2 linked regions of the Homo sapiens genome follow. The protein of the gene in region 1 interacts with the protein of each later gene in a pairwise test. Each region holds a gene or a part of one and is shown in the gene's direction. Other genes may lie near its edges.

Region 1 (8,567 bases):
TGGTGGGCTGAGTGAGTGCGGGGACCCTGCGCTGGACCCTGGAGAGGTCCCCACTGGGCTGTGGAGTGCAGGGCCCGTTCTGAGGCTCACTCTGTGGAGCAGAAAGGAGGAGGAAGCTGTGGGCTCTGGTACGGGGGTGGGGCAAGGGCGCTGTTGGCTCCCTTACCCCAGAGGAGCAGGCCAGATCCCAGAGAGTGCTCAGTCCCTGCTGATCCTGTCCTCCCCATTACCCTTTCCTCCTGGGAATCTGATGAGCAGGCAGGGCTTGGCACGGGGCAGCGGCACCCCCGCTGGCTGAGTGTTCCTGAACCACTGGCTGCTGAGTTGAAGCGTTACTGCCAACCTCCTGTTAATGCTAGAAGCCGGGGCCTCTAGGAGACGCTGTCGGAGGCAGCGAGGGGTGTGCCCTCCAACTCGCAGATCCAGGTGCTTTGCCCCATCCCTGGAGCGGGCAGAACTGATCTATCTGCTGATTCAGGTCACTCCAAAGTGAATTTCCACTATGAGGAAGGATGGCTGGCCTCCTTCCTGGGGCCTCATGCAGGAGGCCTAGGCTGCTGGCTGGGCATCTGGGAACGGGGTCTGGGAGACGGGGGCCGATTGCCCACCTGCTAAGGCATGGACCCGCAGGGCTCGGACCAGCCATGGTTGGAAGCTCCACATTTTGGAGACCCTGAGAGGTGCTGCTGGGCTACAGAGAGGAGTGTCTGCTTCGCGGGGCTCAGGTTCTCTCTGATGGAGTCCCCTCTGGGCAGCTGTGCTACAAAAATGGCCAGTGTTCTGGAATCAGCTAATGATATGATGCCTTCCCTCCAGGGCGGGTCGGGCCCTGCAAGCTCAAGTCCAATCTTGCAAGTAGCTCTTTGGATCCACTGGGGCCATGGGCTCCAAGGGCCCCATTCGTGAGCCTGAGGCCTGCAGGTTGTCAGCAGGCCTGCTCCCCGACCCCAGGGTGTAGAAGGCAGCTGTTCTCAGCCTCCCCTTAGGGCCATGAGTTTCACAGCACGTGACCTGGAGGGGAAGGAGCTCTCACTTCTGTGAGCTGCTGCCTTTGGGGCTTTGAGTGACATTGTTCATTGTCTCCTTGTCTACAGGAAGGTACCTGAGAGTCCGAGGGGCCCCAGGGCAGGAGCTGGGCTCCCCCAACCCCAGGGCCTTGAGATTCCCCGCATGCTGGCTGCATGGGGCCCTGGGAAGCATAAGCAGAGGAGAACCATGGGGGTAAAAACGAGCCTTTAAAAATAAGCGCGAGGCCGTTGGCCTGAGCGAGCCCCGCCCTCCAGGGCCGCTGTCCTGAGCGAGCCCCCCCAACTCCCCTCACCCCCGCCGCCCACAGGGGTTTGTTCAGGGGCTGCATTCAGCCAGGCTGGGGAGCTGAGCCAGGCTGGCTGCCTGCTTTCTGGATCCCCGCCCTCCCCAACCTGGTGATGCCGTCGCTGGGCCCAGACTGTCGCTGCCTGCCCTGGAGGGACCCCGCAGCATGCCCGCCCATCTCTTGCCCGTGGAGCCCCGGCTCTGCTCGGGAGCAGATGGCCCACCAGCTGGGAGCATTCCGCCTCCGACTGCACCAGGTCCACTTTGTAGTTTGGGAATTCCTGTTCCACGCCCCCAGATGGGAGGCGGGATCCAGCCGCAAGGAACAGAAAGGCCTGGGACTCTGGTCCTGTCAAAGGTCACCAGGTGCTTTATTGGGTTCTCCTCAGACCCATGTGCAGCAGTGGGAGGTTTCTTTTTGTCCATTCTTCTGCCTGCCCTTCCCCTGCCACCTTCTCCATCCTCACAGGTGGAAAGGCCGCCGGGGCCGTGCGGGTGCGGTGCTGTGGCCGTGTGTGCAGTGCTGAAGTCCCCAGAGGAGACAGTCGTTCCCACACTCACCCCCTCCTTGAAGGCTGGCTTGATTGATGATCAATCAATTTTGTTGGGGGTCACTGCAAGAGCCATCCAGGAGCTGCTTTCAGGGACCACAGCCTGGCTGGGCAGGGCAAGGGCCCTCCGTCCTTGGGGAGAGCCGTGAAGGGGAGGAGTTATTGGGGAGACATAGGGCGCACCAGGCGGGCAGGGGCCGGGAGAGTGACGGGTGTGATGTGCGGGAAGGGCTGCTGGGTGGTCCAGGGTGGGGTTGGCAAGGGGTCTCGGTGAGTCCTTCAGCATTGTCGTCTTGCTGGTTAGTGGCAGCTGAGATTGCTGAGGTTTGAGGAGGGCCGGGAAGGACAAGAAGGCCCTTCTGAGGGGAGCACCCAACCCCTCAGTACCCCTAACCCCGGCCGTGTCCCTGATGTCTCCAAGCCCCGGAGGCCCAAGCTGTCATCACGCCTGCTTTCCAGATGCTGAATTGAGGGCTCAGAGATGGTCAGTGACTCCAGGCTGCACAGCAGGCCCCAGGCCTGGGGTGTCTGTTGAAAACCCAAGCTCACAGCTCTGCCCTCTCTGTGTCATCTCCATCCTGAGATGGTGACAGAGTCCCTTCACAGTGGCTGCCCTCAGCACAGGGGCCATCACAGAGTCAGGGGCTGGACCCTGTAGCCCAGAAGCTCAGGGATCATTGGCCTATTCCCCCCGGCTTCCGTTTTTTTATGGCAAGGAGTTCAAGGTCACCTGTGCCCAGGGCTCGCCGTGGGTAAGTGCGTTGCAAGGCACAGGGACGGCAAAAGCGTTCAATGCCTGTAGCAGTTCCTATGGCCCACTTTCCAGGTACAAGTGACACTTTTTCCGGAATAAACAGTCCCAGTATCTGCAGTAACACTAGCTCACACCTCCTGAGGGCTGTCGGGAGCCCTTTTCTGTGCAGGCTCATCTAACCCTCATGCAAACCTGGCAAGGTCACTGCTGTGAGTCCTCATTTTACAGGTGAGGAAACTGAGGCAGAGGTTCAGTAACCTGCGCGTCTTAAAGATGGGGCGTGGGGAGCTGAGATTCAAACCCAGGCTGCTTGGCGGTGAGACCTTGCTTCAAACCGCTAGGCCTGGGGTTACAAGCTTGAGTGTGCTCCAGCATCCCCTGGTGGGCTTGGGCAAACACACGCAATCCTTCCCACCCCGAGGAATGCTGGGCCCCACCCCCAGAGTCCTGGATTCAGTGGTCCAGGGTGGGGCCCAGGAGTGTGCATTTCTGCAGGTTCCCAGGAGAGGCTGCTGGTCCTGGCCGGGGGACCCCACTTTGAGAACCACTGCATGACGCTTTGCAGCCCTAGAGCCCGATGGTTGGTGGGGTGGGTGCGTTCATCACGAGTTCTGCCCTCCAAGATGTGCTAGTTCTTTAAAACACCTGTCTCTGATCCCAAATTTGACACTGTTACATGAAAGTGTGAATTTTTGAAGTTTCAGGGGGACAGAGTATCTGTCAGTAGGAGGAGGACAGGGTGGCACTGTCCCGGGAGGGGTTGGGGAGGGATCTTCATGAAGGGGCGCAGGAAGCACGGGGGTGCCACCGTGGAGCCAAGGCCATCCCTTGGGTGGGGGCCGGGTCCTGGAACCTGGAGAGAGTGGGCACGGCCTCCGCCCCTGACAGGAGGGCCACACCCCAGTGCCTCTTCCACATCTCTTCCTGGTCCTCCCATTGACTAAACCCACCTGGCAGCCAGAAGGCAAAGTGTGTAAGTGAGTGTGTGTGCCTGTGTGTGTATCTGTGAGTGTGTGTGAATGGGAGTTTGAGAGTGCATATGTGTGTGCGAGTGTGTGTGAGTTTGTGAGCTTGCATGCGTGAGAGTACAGAAGTGTGCGTGTGCATGAGTATGTATGTGATTGTGTGTGTGTCATTGTATGAGTGTATGTGTGTGTATGTGAGTGTATGAGTGTATGAGAATATGTGTGATTGTGTGTGAGTGTGAATGTGTATGTGTGTGATTGTGTGTGTATGTGTGTAATTGTGTATATGTGTGTATAGGTAAGCATATGTGTGTATGAGGGTGTGTGATTTTGAGTGTGAAAGTGATTGTGAGTTGTGTGTATGTAATTGTGGGTATGGTAGTGAGTGTGATTGAGTGTGTGTGAACGTGCGTGAGTGTATGAGCATGTTGAGTGTGTAAGCATGCATATGAATGTGAATGTGTGTGATTGCGTTTGTGTGATTGTGTGGGTGTGAGAGTATGTGTGAGTGCCTTCTGTTAGTGTGATTGTGTTCGAGTCCATGTAAAGTGTGTGTGACTGTGTGTGTGGGTGTGTGTGACTGAGTATGAGTAAGGGTGTATGTGACTGTGAGTGTGTGACTGTGTGTGGGTGTGTGTATGAGTGGTTGTGAATGTGTGTGATTGAGTGTGAGTTTGTGTGTGACTGAGAGTGTGAGTGTGAGGGTGTGTGTTTGTGTGTGTGCAGGTGCTGGGAGGATGTGATCCACAGAGGTCAGCCTTGGGTCACAGCAGGGTGGGGTGGGGCAGTGGCCCTGGGGGCTGTGAGACCATCCCCCATGGGTGCTGTAGTCTGGGGGTCAGGAATGAGGTCAGGACCCAGCCCCAGGGAGGCTGAGGAGGGCTCTCCCTGGAGACGTGACCCTCTGTCCCTGATCCAACCTCTGGTCCTGCCCCCTCCCCTATTCTCACTCTGGGATCCGTGGCCCTTAGGACACAGAGGCCCAACAGTGCTGGGGGAAGGTGGGAGAGACCTGGCCCTTAGTCATCACCATTAGCTGGTGATCTTGAGCAGATCAGGGGGTCACTGTCACTTCCTCCCTGGGAGGGGAGAGATTCGATGATGTAATGTCAGGAAAGGACCTGGTGCTGGGCACGGAGGAGGCACTCCTGAACGAGTCACCTCTTCCCCAGCTCCCAGGTAGAAATAGTCGGGGATTTTGGAAGTCTCGCTCTCCACCCAGGTGAGAGTTGTCTTCCTGGTGCAGGAAGAGGCAATGGCAGAGCCTTTCCACCTGCCCTGGGTTCGTGCAGCTGATCCCGCCTAGCTGGAGGGTCCCCATTGCTGCGGAGGCTTCTCGGCTGCAGCTGCCGGTCTGTCTGGGAGTTGGTGGGGAACCTGGACCCTGCTTATGGCCAGGAGGAGCTCTGCCCTGCCTCGTGCCCTGCCTTGTGCCCCACCCTGCAGTCACCTGGGCCTGGACTCCAGGAATCAACGCTACCTCGGGTGGGCAAGCCTCAGCCCTGGGATGGGACGTTTGGGAAACTGCGGGAGAGTGTGGGCAGAACCTCTCGGCAGGAGGTCATGGGCAGGACATGTCCAGCAGCAGCCCCAGCCCCTCTCGGACTTGACTGGAGACCTGGAGCTGGACTCTGGTCCCAGCCTTCGTCTGCCCCTTCGTGGGTGGGCAGCTGGAGGCCAGGGTCCCTCCTCTGGGTGCCACAGCAGCCTGGTGGAGCCCCTGCTGTCCCGGCTGGTGAGGCCCTGCCATTTGCCCCTCTCAGTTTTTGCCATCGCTATGTTGGGTCTGTGCTTTCTGGATTTGTTCAGCACAAGGGGGTGGGCTGAAGTCAGAGGGGACACAGGGCTTCCCACACAGCACGAGCCCCAGGAAAGAGGAAAAATAAGTCCTCCATTGCAAGAGCCTCCATCTGGGGGCGGCTGGCCTGGGGCCAGGGTGGCTGGACGGGGCGGGCAGTCTCTGAGTGCTGAGCCAGGGTCCGGCCCACGGGGCGGCGGCTGGTTAGGAGCTCCTGGCAAGGCCTGGGCGGAGGGCGGTACCGAGCCTGGACAATATTCCCGGTGGGGTGGGGACCTCTGATGAGGAGGCTGGGGGAACCCATGCCACCTGCTTGCCCCCAGGAGGTGGGAGGGGCTCTGGTGGGATCTGCCAGGCTTGCTGCACCTGAGGCTGGAGGGGAGACACCGGCCCGCACCAGGTATGCCTGGCCCTGGTTCTGGGGAGCAAGTCCAGAGCTGGGAGAGCAGGACAAGCCTCTTCTTTCCTCTGAGGCCCCCCAGACGTCACCTGACGTAGTGGGACACGAGCACTGGAGCCTTGTCCTCTCCCCCCGAATTTGCCTCTGTGGAGGGAGCCCGCCTCACCCCTCGGTCAGGGCAGGCCAGGGGCGAGCCCCTGCTCTGGGGGTGCTGGCCCGTGTGGCTGTCTTTGGAGGGTCCCTCCCTCTGACCCTTCCCCCCGCAGGGCCTGAGTCCTTTCTCCACCTGCTCCGAGCCCGGTGGGGTCTGGATGGCTGGCTTAAGGTGCCTGTCCCTGGCATGCCCCCTCCCCTGGTTTATGCAGCCTCTGGGCTGGAGAGGCCTTGGAGGGACCTGAAGGAGTTTGGCAGGGATGGGGCTGGGGTTTTCACCTCCTCCTCCAAGAGCAAACACTCACCAGTGTGGGTCATAGGATGCCGGGGAGCCGCTGACTTCACAGGGGATGGGCCCGGGTTCACCCCAGCCATGTGCCCCAGCAACATCAGGCCTGGGGACATCTCTGAAGCGAGGTGGGGAGGGCTGGGGTGGAGAGGACAGAATGGGCCCGCGCTTGGTCCTGGATTCTGGACGAGGTGTGACTGTGCCTTGAGGCCACAGTTCCTGTCTGTTGAGGCAGCGTCGTTGGTGGCTGTGTTGCAAGGTCTTAGGGCACTAGGATCCACGCTGTGGGCCATGCGTGGGGGATGTTGCGGTCATCTTGCCTTTTCCCCTGAGCTCCTGTGCCCTCAAGCCTGGGTCCCACGGCTGGCCTGGGGCACTGGCATGGGCACTGTGCCGTGGAGGCCTGGCCACGGGTCTGGACCTCACTCCAGATGAGCTGACACCCAAGGCTGGGGGTGCAGGAGGGGTGGGTGTTGCCGGCTGGGGGTGGCCGAGGCGCTGACTCTCCGTGTCTCTGTTCCAGGCCCCACGTGTGTGCTGAGCAGGAGCTGACCCTGGTGGGCCGCCGCCAGCCGTGCGTGCAGGCCTTAAGCCACACGGTGCCGGTGTGGAAGGCCGGCTGTGGGTGGCAGGCGTGGTGCGTGGGTCATGAGCGGAGGTAAGTGCAGGGGCCCGTGTTGGGGGAGGGGCTCCATTCACACAAAGGGCGGCACTGACCACCCGGGAGCTGGGCAGCTGAGGCCAGGACCCCGTCCTGGTCTCAGGGCCACACGCAACCCCTGCCTGAAGCCCTCATCTGAGCATGAGGCCTCTCCCACCCTCAGGGTGGGTCTGCCATGGGGCTACTCACATGCTGTAGCCCTCTCCTGTTTAGCCGAGCACCTGAGTCCTTTGTGAGGGGTGTGTGGAGGAGGAGGGGCCCAGCCCGGGAGGATGCTGGCCACGCAGGAAGGGGAGAGTGGTCTCAGCCTGCCAGGGGCCCGGTGGGAGGCTGCTGCTTCTTGGCCCTAGGGCCTTGTTCCCCAACACACGTGAAACTTTTTACTGCGCAAGATTTTATTTCAACACCGAACTTGAGTGCCTGTGCACACCTCTCCCCCTTTTATAGACTCAGGCTCTGCAGAGCCAGCCCTGCCGCAAAGCGGGTTGTGCCGGGAGCTGGCAGCCCCCGTGTCAGGTGGAGAGTTTCCGTGTGTCTGTGGGAGGGAAGGCAGGAACGCATTCTCAGAGAAGATCGTGGCTAGCTTCTCAGCCTGGGATCTGCGGAGGAGCCGAGGCCCTGCTCTGCGCTGCTCCCTTGGGCATGGGGTCCACGCGGGACACCTGCACCTGCTGTACCTGCTCCAGGGGGCTCTGGCAGCTTTCTGGTCAATGTGTGTTTGCTGCGCAATTCAGATGTGTTCAGAGTAGAGGAGAAAAAAACCGTTAAGCAATAATGGTGGTTCTCACTCAGGGGCAGTTCTGTCTTCCTACCCCGGGACAGTGGAGATGTGGAGTCAGGTTTGGTGACAGGTGAGCTGGGCAGGCTGAGGGGGCCAGGGATGCTGCTGAGCATCTCAGCACACAGGACGACCCCCCGAACAGACGACCCGGCCCAGTACCAGGAGGGCTGAGGTTCAGGGATCCTGAGCCCCCAAAACAAGAGATCTCAGGAGGGCTGAGGTTCAGGGACCCTGAGCAAAAAGAAGAAATCTCCTCTCATTGTTTTCCCCAAAATAGCAGCTTGCAGTCTGTCCTGACTGTCACCCATGCGTGGATGCGGGCCTGCCCTGTGGATGTCATGCGTGCATGGATGCAGGTGGATTTCCCTGCGGGAATTTGTTTGCATCAGCCAGGTCTCCCGCCAACAGCTCGTGGTGGAAGAGCTCTGTTTCTAGAAGCAGCCAGAAGCCATCTGAGCCCAGGGCTGGAGAGAGTGCTGGTGGCCGGGCTGAGGAAGTCCCCTCGCTATGGGGGCATGATTTCTCCATTGTGGTCTCTAGGCTAGCCTGAAGGCAGGGTGGGAGCAGCATTGCCGATGTGCCGGGGTCCTCAGCCTCCTGGCAGGGCACTGGGGGCAGCCGTGGACAAAGTCCCCCTGCTTGGAGGGGGGGGCACTGGCAGGGGATCCCCTCCCGGCATTACCCAATGCAGGGTGTCCGGGCCTCTTCACCAACCCTCCCTCCCGAAAGGTGGCCATTCTGCCTCAAGGTCCTGGGCTTGTCATGGGGGAGGGGCCGAGGTCCACCTCCGAGGACCCTGGGCTGTTCTCACCTGGCCCCCGCTCCTGGGGGAACCAGAGGCTTCTTACCACCCTGGTGCCGGGGGGATGGGCGTCCTGTGTGCTCTACTGGAACCAGCCCC
Region 2 (7,784 bases), on another chromosome or scaffold:
TCTCTCTGTCTCTGTCTCTCTCTCTCTCTTCCCTGTCCATCTGTTTCTCTCTCCCACCCACCCCTCTGTTCTCTCTGCCCAGAAGAATCTCTATTTTGGTTTTGGTTTTGTTTGTTTTGTATTGTTTTGAGACGGAGTCTCGTTCTGTCGCCCAGGCTGGAGTGCAGTGGCGCAGTCTCAACTCACCACTGCAGCCTCCACCTCCCAGGTTCAAGCGATTCTCATGCCTCAGCCTCCCGAGTAGTTGGGATTACAGGCGCACGCCACCACGCCCAGCTAATTTTTGCATTTTTACTAGAGACTGGTTTCACCATGTTGACCAGGCTGGACCCTATCCTCTTTCAAGCCCCCCACCCCAGGCATTGAGGGCAGAGCCAACTACCTGCCTGAACCAATTAGCATATTAAACGTAAACCCAGTTAGCATATCCAAATAGCAGCCCACAGTGACATTCTGACTGTCAGAATGTGGATTGCTTGAGCCCAGGAGCTCAAGGCTTCGGTGAACAAAGATTGTGCCACAGCCTGGGCAACAGAGTAAGTCCCTGTCGATCGATAGATAGATGATAGATAGATAGATAGATAGATAGATAGATAGATAGATAGATAGATAGATAAATTTTTAAAAAAAATAATAGGCCAGGCACAGTGGCTCATGCCTGTAATCCCAGCACTTTGGGAGGCCGAGGCAGGCAGATCACCTGAGGTCAGGAGTTCGAGACCAGCCTGGCCAACATGGTGAAACCCTGTCTCTACAAAAATATAAAAATAGCCAGGCAGATGTCTGTAATCCCAGCTACTCAGGAGGCTGAGGTAGGAGAATCGCTTGAACTCTGAAGGTGGAGGTTGCAGTGAGCCGAGATCATGCCATTGCACTCCAGCCTGAGTGACAGAGCGAGACTCCATCTCAAAAATAATAACAATAATAAAAATAATAATAAATGCTCTGGCCCCAAAGTGGCACATTACATGGTGCACACCCCATTAGCAAGGACTCATCACATGGCCCTGCCAACCACAGGAGGAACCCCCCCATGTACTCAGGTAGGAGGGCCAGGAAACACCGTCAGAGAGCTTTAATGACTCACCCCATGACTGGGGTGAGGGACGAGGGACTGGCTGCAGGCCAAGGGCATGTCCGTGGCAGTGGAGACTTGGGAAAGGGGAAAAGACCTCCTCTGAGCCACGCACAGTGGCTTTCATCTGTAATTCCAGCACTTTGGGAGGCTGAGGTGGGAGGATCTTGAGCCCAGGAGGTCGAGACTGCAGTGAGCTATGTTTGTGCCACGGCACTCTAGCCTGGGCGACAGAGCAAAACCCTGTCTCAAAAATCAAAATAAAACCAAAACCAAAACTTCCTCTGTTGGGGATGCTCCAGGGCGTCCCAGCCTTGAACAGATGGGTCACTGCAGTAATAATCCTATGGCAGACACTGTCCCAAGGCTGCACGCACGTTACTTTGATCATCAAACAACCAGGTGATAGCCAGGCATGGTGGTGCGTGCCTGTAGTCCCAGCTACTCAGGAAGCTGAAGCGGGAGAATCTCTTGAACCTGGGAGGCGGAGGTAACAGTGAGTCGAGATCACATGACTGCACTTCAGCCTGGGAACAGAGAGAGACTCTGTCAAAAAAAAAAAAAAAACAGGCCAGACGCGGTGGCTCACGCATGTAATCGCCAGCACTTTGGGAGGCTGAGGAGGGTGGATCACCTGAGGTCAGGAGTTTGAGACCAGCCTGGCCAACATGGTGAAACCCCGTCTCTACTAAAAATACAAAATTAGTTGGGCGTGGTGGTGCACACCTGTAATCCCAGCTACTCGGGAGGCTGAGGCAGGAGAATCGCTTGAACCCAGGAGGCAGAGGTTGCAGTGAGCTGAGATTGCACCATTGCACTCCAGCCTGGGCAACAAGAGTGAAACTCCATCTCAAAAAAAAAACAAAAAAAAAACAACCAGCCAGGCGCGGTGGCTTACGCCTGTAATCCCAGCACTTTGGGAGGCCGAGGCGTGTGGATCACCCGAGGTTAGGAGTTCGAGACCAGCTTGACCAACATGGTGAAACTCCGTCTCTACTAAAAATACAAAAAATTAGCCAGGCATGGTGGTGCATGTCTGTAATCCCAGCTACTCGGGAAGCTGAGACAGGAGAATTGCTTGAACCCAGGAGTCGGAGGTTGCAGTGAGCCAAGCTCGTGCCACTGCACTCCAGCCTGGGCAACAGAGCAAGACTCTGTCTAAAAAAAAAAAAAAAACACACACACACACACACAACAACCAGGTGAGGCAAGTACTCTTGCTATCATCTCCATTTCACAGATGGAGAAACTGAGTTACTAAGTGGTAGAGTAACCTAAGTCATGCAGCCGATAACTGGGAGACAAGATTGGGACCCAGGTCGCCCAGCTGTTCTCCATGCCGGGCTGTCTCCTGCACAGCTGCTCCATGGTCCTGGCCCCACCGAAAACCAGAGCCCACAAGGTCATTCCAGCAGCACTGCCCAGGGCCTCCTCTGGGCCAGGCCGTTGGGGAACTGGAGACCCCATGGGGACCAGAAAGATTGGGGTCTCGTTCTCGGGAGCCTATGGCTTTGCAGCTGACCCAGAGTCCAGCTGACACCCAGGCAGGCAGTCAGGGTCTGTCTACACCCCCATTGCAGGAGGAGCCGACAAACAGCAGATGGACGCTGAGCTGCGGAAGGAGATGATGGCGATTTGGCCCAATCTGTCCCAGAAGACGCTAGACCTGCTGGTCACACCTCACAAGTGTAAGAGCTGAGCCCAGCCCTGGGATCCAATCCACCAGGACAGATGGAGGGGGAGGGAAAGGGGAGGCCTGGGGAGAGTGTTGGCCTGGGCTGGTATACACAGGGACCCAGGACAAGGGCCCCAAAGAGGCCTGCCCTTGGTGAGCTCACCGTGTGTGTGCCCCCAGCCACGGACCTCACCGTGGGGAAGATCTACGCAGCCATGATGATCATGGAGTACTACCGGCAGAGCAAGGCCAAGAAGCTGCAGGCCATGCGCGAGGAGCAGGTGCGCTGTTCGCCGCTCTGGGGACATCTGGGCTGGGGACAGTGGCTTGCATGTCACCACGGGAACCAACTGGAATATGAGGGTGGCTGAGCCCCAGGGCAGGTCCCTGAAAAGTAGGGGCTGTGCACAGCAGCTCACACCTGCAATCTCAGTGCTTTGAGAGGCCAGGGCAGAGGGATCGTTTGAGACCAGGATGAGACCACCCTGGGCAACACAGTGAGACTCCATCTCTACAAAATAAAACATTAGCCAGGCATGGTGGTGCACACCTGTAGTCCCAGCTATTTAGGAGGCCAAGATGGGAGGATCACTTGAGGCCAGGAGTGGGAGACCAGTCTGGGCAACATAGAAAGACCCATATCTCTACAAAAAAAAAATAAAATTAGCTGCATGTGGCGCCATGCACCTGTGGTCCCAGCTACTTGGGAGGCTGAGGCAGGAGAATCACTTGAACCTGGGAGGTGGAGGTTGCAGCAAGCCAAGATCAAGCCACTGCACTCCAGCCCGGGTGATAAGAGCAGGACTCTATCTCAAAAAAAAAAAAAAAAAAAAAAAAAAAAGTTCTTGCCAAGGACACATCATGTGGATTCATTCTTCATTCAGCTGCTCCACCAACACTTATTGAGTATTACTGTGTGCAGGGCGCTGTTCTCAGTCCTCGGGGATGCACCCATGGGGAAAATAGGCCAGAATCCCTGCCCTCAGGGAGCAGACATTCCAAGTGGGGAAATGCCAATGGTAGCAAATGACTGAATCGTGCAACATCCAGCAAAGAGAAAGAAAGTGTCGTGGGGGAAAGTGGAGAAGAATCCAGAAGATAGGAGTATCCAGGGGAGGAGGGGATGCGGTGGGAAATGGGTAGTTGGGGAGCCTCCCTGAGAAAGTGACATGTGAGCAAAGGCTTGAAGGAAAAGGGGAGAGGGAGTGAGCTAAGCAATACCTGGAAGGGTGTTCCAGGCAGAGGAAACAGCCAGTGCAAAGGCTCTGAGGCTGGACCGTGCCTGGGTTGTTTGGGTAACAGCAAAGAGGCCAGTGTGGTGGAAAAGAGCAGGGAGGAGACAAGGGCAAGGAGGTGACAGGGCAGATCCTTCAGGGCCATGGGAGCTGCAGGAAGGACTCTGGCTTTTTCCCCAAGCAAGTGGGAGCCATGGAGGGTTCTAAGCAAAGGAGGGATAGGACCTGACTCAAGTGCTCATGGGCGCCCTCTGGTGGCTCTTGTGGAACAGTGGGGTTGAAGGTAGGAGCGGGAGACCTGGGAGAAGGTGCCTGCAGTGAGAGATGAGGACGTGGGACCAGGCTGGGGCTATGACTTGGGTGGAGGAGTGAGAAGTGGTCCAGTTCTGCGTGGAATTGGAAGGGTCTAGATGGATGAGACCTGAGAGAGTGTGTGTGTGTGTGTGTGTGTATACTGGGGATGTCGCAATGCCTTCTGGGTACCACCGTCCCACCACCCCACCCTTGTCCACACACTGCTCTCTGCCCCATTCCCCAGGACCGGACACCCCTCATGTTCCAGCGCATGGAGCCCCCGTCCCCAACGCAGGAAGGGGGACCTGGCCAGAACGCCCTCCCCTCCACCCAGCTGGACCCAGGAGGAGCCCTGTGAGTGTCACCCCTGCCAGGGAGGTGGAGTGTGGGGGTGCCGTGGTCCCCACGTTCTGGAAGCTGCCCAAGCGCCCACTGCTACCCCGGCCTCTGTCCCCCATGCAGGATGGCTCACGAAAGCGGCCTCAAGGAGAGCCCGTCCTGGGTGACCCAGCGTGCCCAGGAGATGTTCCAGAAGACGGGCACATGGAGTCCGGAACAAGGCCCCCCTACCGACATGCCCAACAGCCAGCCTAACTCTCAGGTGCCTCTGTCCCCCAACTCCCCAATGGCTCCCAGGGCCCGGGTGGTTCAGGTGGAAGGGATCTGGGCCCCCCACACACACACACCTGCAGCTCCCTCCCTCTGCAGACACCAGGGATCTGGAGGTCAGGCCCCAGAGCTCATCTGGCTTTGCCATCTGCTCCGCAGTCCGTGGAGATGCGAGAGATGGGCAGAGATGGCTACTCCGACAGCGAGCACTACCTCCCCATGGAAGGCCAGGGCCGGGCTGCCTCCATGCCCCGCCTCCCTGCAGAGAACCAGGTGAGGGCTTTCACCACTGCCCTGGGGCTGGACCCCTCACTCTGCACTGGGTAGGGCCAGGCCCCCCCACAAGCAGCCCAGTGCATCCCCTCCCTGCCGGACTCAGGCCTGGGTAGGGACTCCTTCAGTCTCTGAAGCAGTCTGCAGGCCCCACCCACCACCTGGTCACACCTGGAGCACCTGCAGACCCTCCTCCCTCACAGAGGACAGAGAGGAAAGTGCTCCCCCTGGGGCAGAGGGCAGTGGCCACTGCAAAATGGTCTCTGGCTGCCCTGGTTGGAGGCTGCAGACAGGGGAGGTTGTGGAAGATTTGTGGGTGCAGCAGGGTTCAACAGGGCCAGCTGAGACCTGCCACGAAGATCACCCCTACACAAACACACACACACATGCTCAACATACATGCACACACATGTGCAGCTGTGCGCCTACTCAGATGCTTGCATACACACACGTGTGTGCACGTGGGCATATACACACTGCACATGTACTCACACATGCACACATGTACGTGCACACGTGTCTGCATATGGGAACTTGGCAGGTCCTAGGATACAGTAGCAGAGTCTGGGGTGGGTCTGGGGGCAGCTGGGCTCGTATTTTCTGTCTGGTCTCTGTGGGAGTCATTGGGGGGCACAGGGGTGTGTGCTTGATGTGTGTCTGTGTGTGGCCGCTTCACCCAGCTGCCAGGCCCACCTGCAGGTGATCCCGTTGCCTTGGACTCATGGGACAGAGGGCCCAGAGGCATAGCTGGCTGCCCACCCGGCCTGAACAGCGGGGGCCCATGCACGCAGCCCGCCTCTGGAGGAGAACAGGGCATGGCTGTGAGAGCCTGGCCCGGGTGCGTGGCATGTGTGGCTGTGGCGAGCTTTCCGTGTGCCGTGTGTGGCGTCTGCACGGGGCAGGAGGCTGTGCTGTGCCTGGCTGGACCAGGGTCACCTGAGGGCCTGGCCTCTGGCTGCTGGGAACGTGGGTTGGGGAGCACCCAGCGTGCATGCTGCTGCTCCCTCAGGACCGAGCTGCTGGGCCCCAGGAGAGGGTTGGGACAAGCCCAGCTGACGGCCACCACATGGAAGCTTTGAGCATCGGCCGGAGCCAGGGGTTGGGGTGTGCATCGCATGAGGCAGAGCCCAGGGCCAGGGGCTCGAGGCTGCGCCGTCCTGTCTTTCGGTCCCATGCCTCTGCCATTTGTCTGTCTGCATCTCCTGTCTGTCTCCTCTGTACCCATGGGAATAGAGGACGCCCAGCCCCGGGGGCCTGGGACACCCACCCGCCAGGACTTTAACTTTTCTTTTCCTCCCTGCCTTCTCCCTCCGATTTCTCTTGATGCCAGTGCCACTCCCCTCCTTGGCTTCTTCTCCATGCACCACCTCCTCACTCTCCCTCTTGCCTTTTATATTTATTTTCTTCTTTCTGTTTTTTCTGTGTGCACCATCCCATGGGGCTGTGACAGAGGAGAAGGGGCCGGCCACGTGGGAATAACCTCAGTGTATGTACCGCGCCTGCCCAGCGCCCAGCAGGGCTCCGGCCCCCTCTTCCTCCCCACCCCCCCTCCAGGGAGTCCCGTCATCTCTCACCGTCCCCGGACCCCACCCTTTCTTTGGCAATCGCACCCTCTCCCCTCCATGGAGCCCAATCCTTGTGTGTGGTGTCCTGTGTGTGCCCCTCACCCATAAGCCCTGGTGGGCGGGGCCATCCCCATCCTCACCCCTACCCCCTTTTCTTCAGGGCCCCCCACGCCGGAGGACACTGGCTCTCCAAGAGCCTGGCCCACTCTGCACCTCTTTCTGGGGGGCTTCTTCTCCTGACACCACCACCAACCCCTGGTCCTGCAGCTCCTACCTGGAGCAGGGCCACCAGCGCTCAGCTGGGCTGGACCCTGGGAGGCGGGCGTCTGCCCCATCTCCCTCCTTCCCTCCTCTGCCTGCTGCAGAGAAACCTGTGTGTCAGGGCTTGACCCAGGGATGAAGCACCAGGGAAAAGAGTGGGCCCCCAGAGCCTCCAGTGCCTGGGTATCCCCCACCCCCACCCAGAGCTCCCTAGCTTGGGCCTCACCAGAAGGACTCAGACTTGTGGGGGCAGCGAGCACAGCCCCGTTAGCCGGGAGGACCCAAAGCTGCCATGCCGGGCACCTGGTCCTGAGCCCATAGGTCAGCCAGCCACAGTCGGAGGCTTCTCACCCTCCCAGGAGAGCAAGCTGGGGCAGGGATGAGTGCGGCAGTCCAGGGCTCCCAGGTTTGCACCCTGGATGTGGAGAGGGCTTCCCTCTGGCCAGCCTGAGCCTGCCCAACTGTGGCTGGGCCCCCAGGACTGGAGAGTGAGGATCAGATCTTTCTGGTCAGAACCCAGGATGGGCTCAAAAGGAGCAGTCCTGTCTCTGAGGGACAGAGGAATCCTCAGGCTCCACCCTCAGAGGCCTGGCCACACCCAGAGCCCTGATTGATCAGGGGGAGCCAAGGCCCCATGGCATCCCCTGGCCCCTGCCCCAGGATGGTCACACCGCAGTCACCGAAGGCCACCACCAGGCTGCCACAATGGGGCAGGAAGGACCGGGACCACTTGGTGCTAGCTGCTGACCCCAGCCCACCGGCCTGTCCCCTCCCCCAGACCATCTCAGACACCAGCC

Evidence for each region. Proteins that work in one complex are often made in the same cells at the same time.
Region 2: the proteins of MEGF6 (region 1) and CACNA1A interact in a two-hybrid assay, tested with the Homo sapiens proteins (one study listed by BioGRID and IntAct).

The regions. Positions count from the first base shown.
Region 1 is NC_000001.11:3,600,781-3,609,347, reverse strand, and holds part of MEGF6 (multiple epidermal growth factor-like domains protein 6 isoform 1 precursor), read left to right. Parts: intron 1-6,747; coding exon 6,748-6,882; intron 6,883-8,567.
Region 2 is NC_000019.10:13,209,480-13,217,263, reverse strand, and holds part of CACNA1A (voltage-dependent P/Q-type calcium channel subunit alpha-1A), read left to right. Parts: intron 1-2,655; coding exon 2,656-2,763; intron 2,764-2,930; coding exon 2,931-3,031; intron 3,032-4,523; coding exon 4,524-4,633; intron 4,634-4,741; coding exon 4,742-4,880; intron 4,881-5,047; coding exon 5,048-5,161; intron 5,162-6,611; coding exon 6,612-6,647; intron 6,648-7,765; coding exon 7,766-7,784.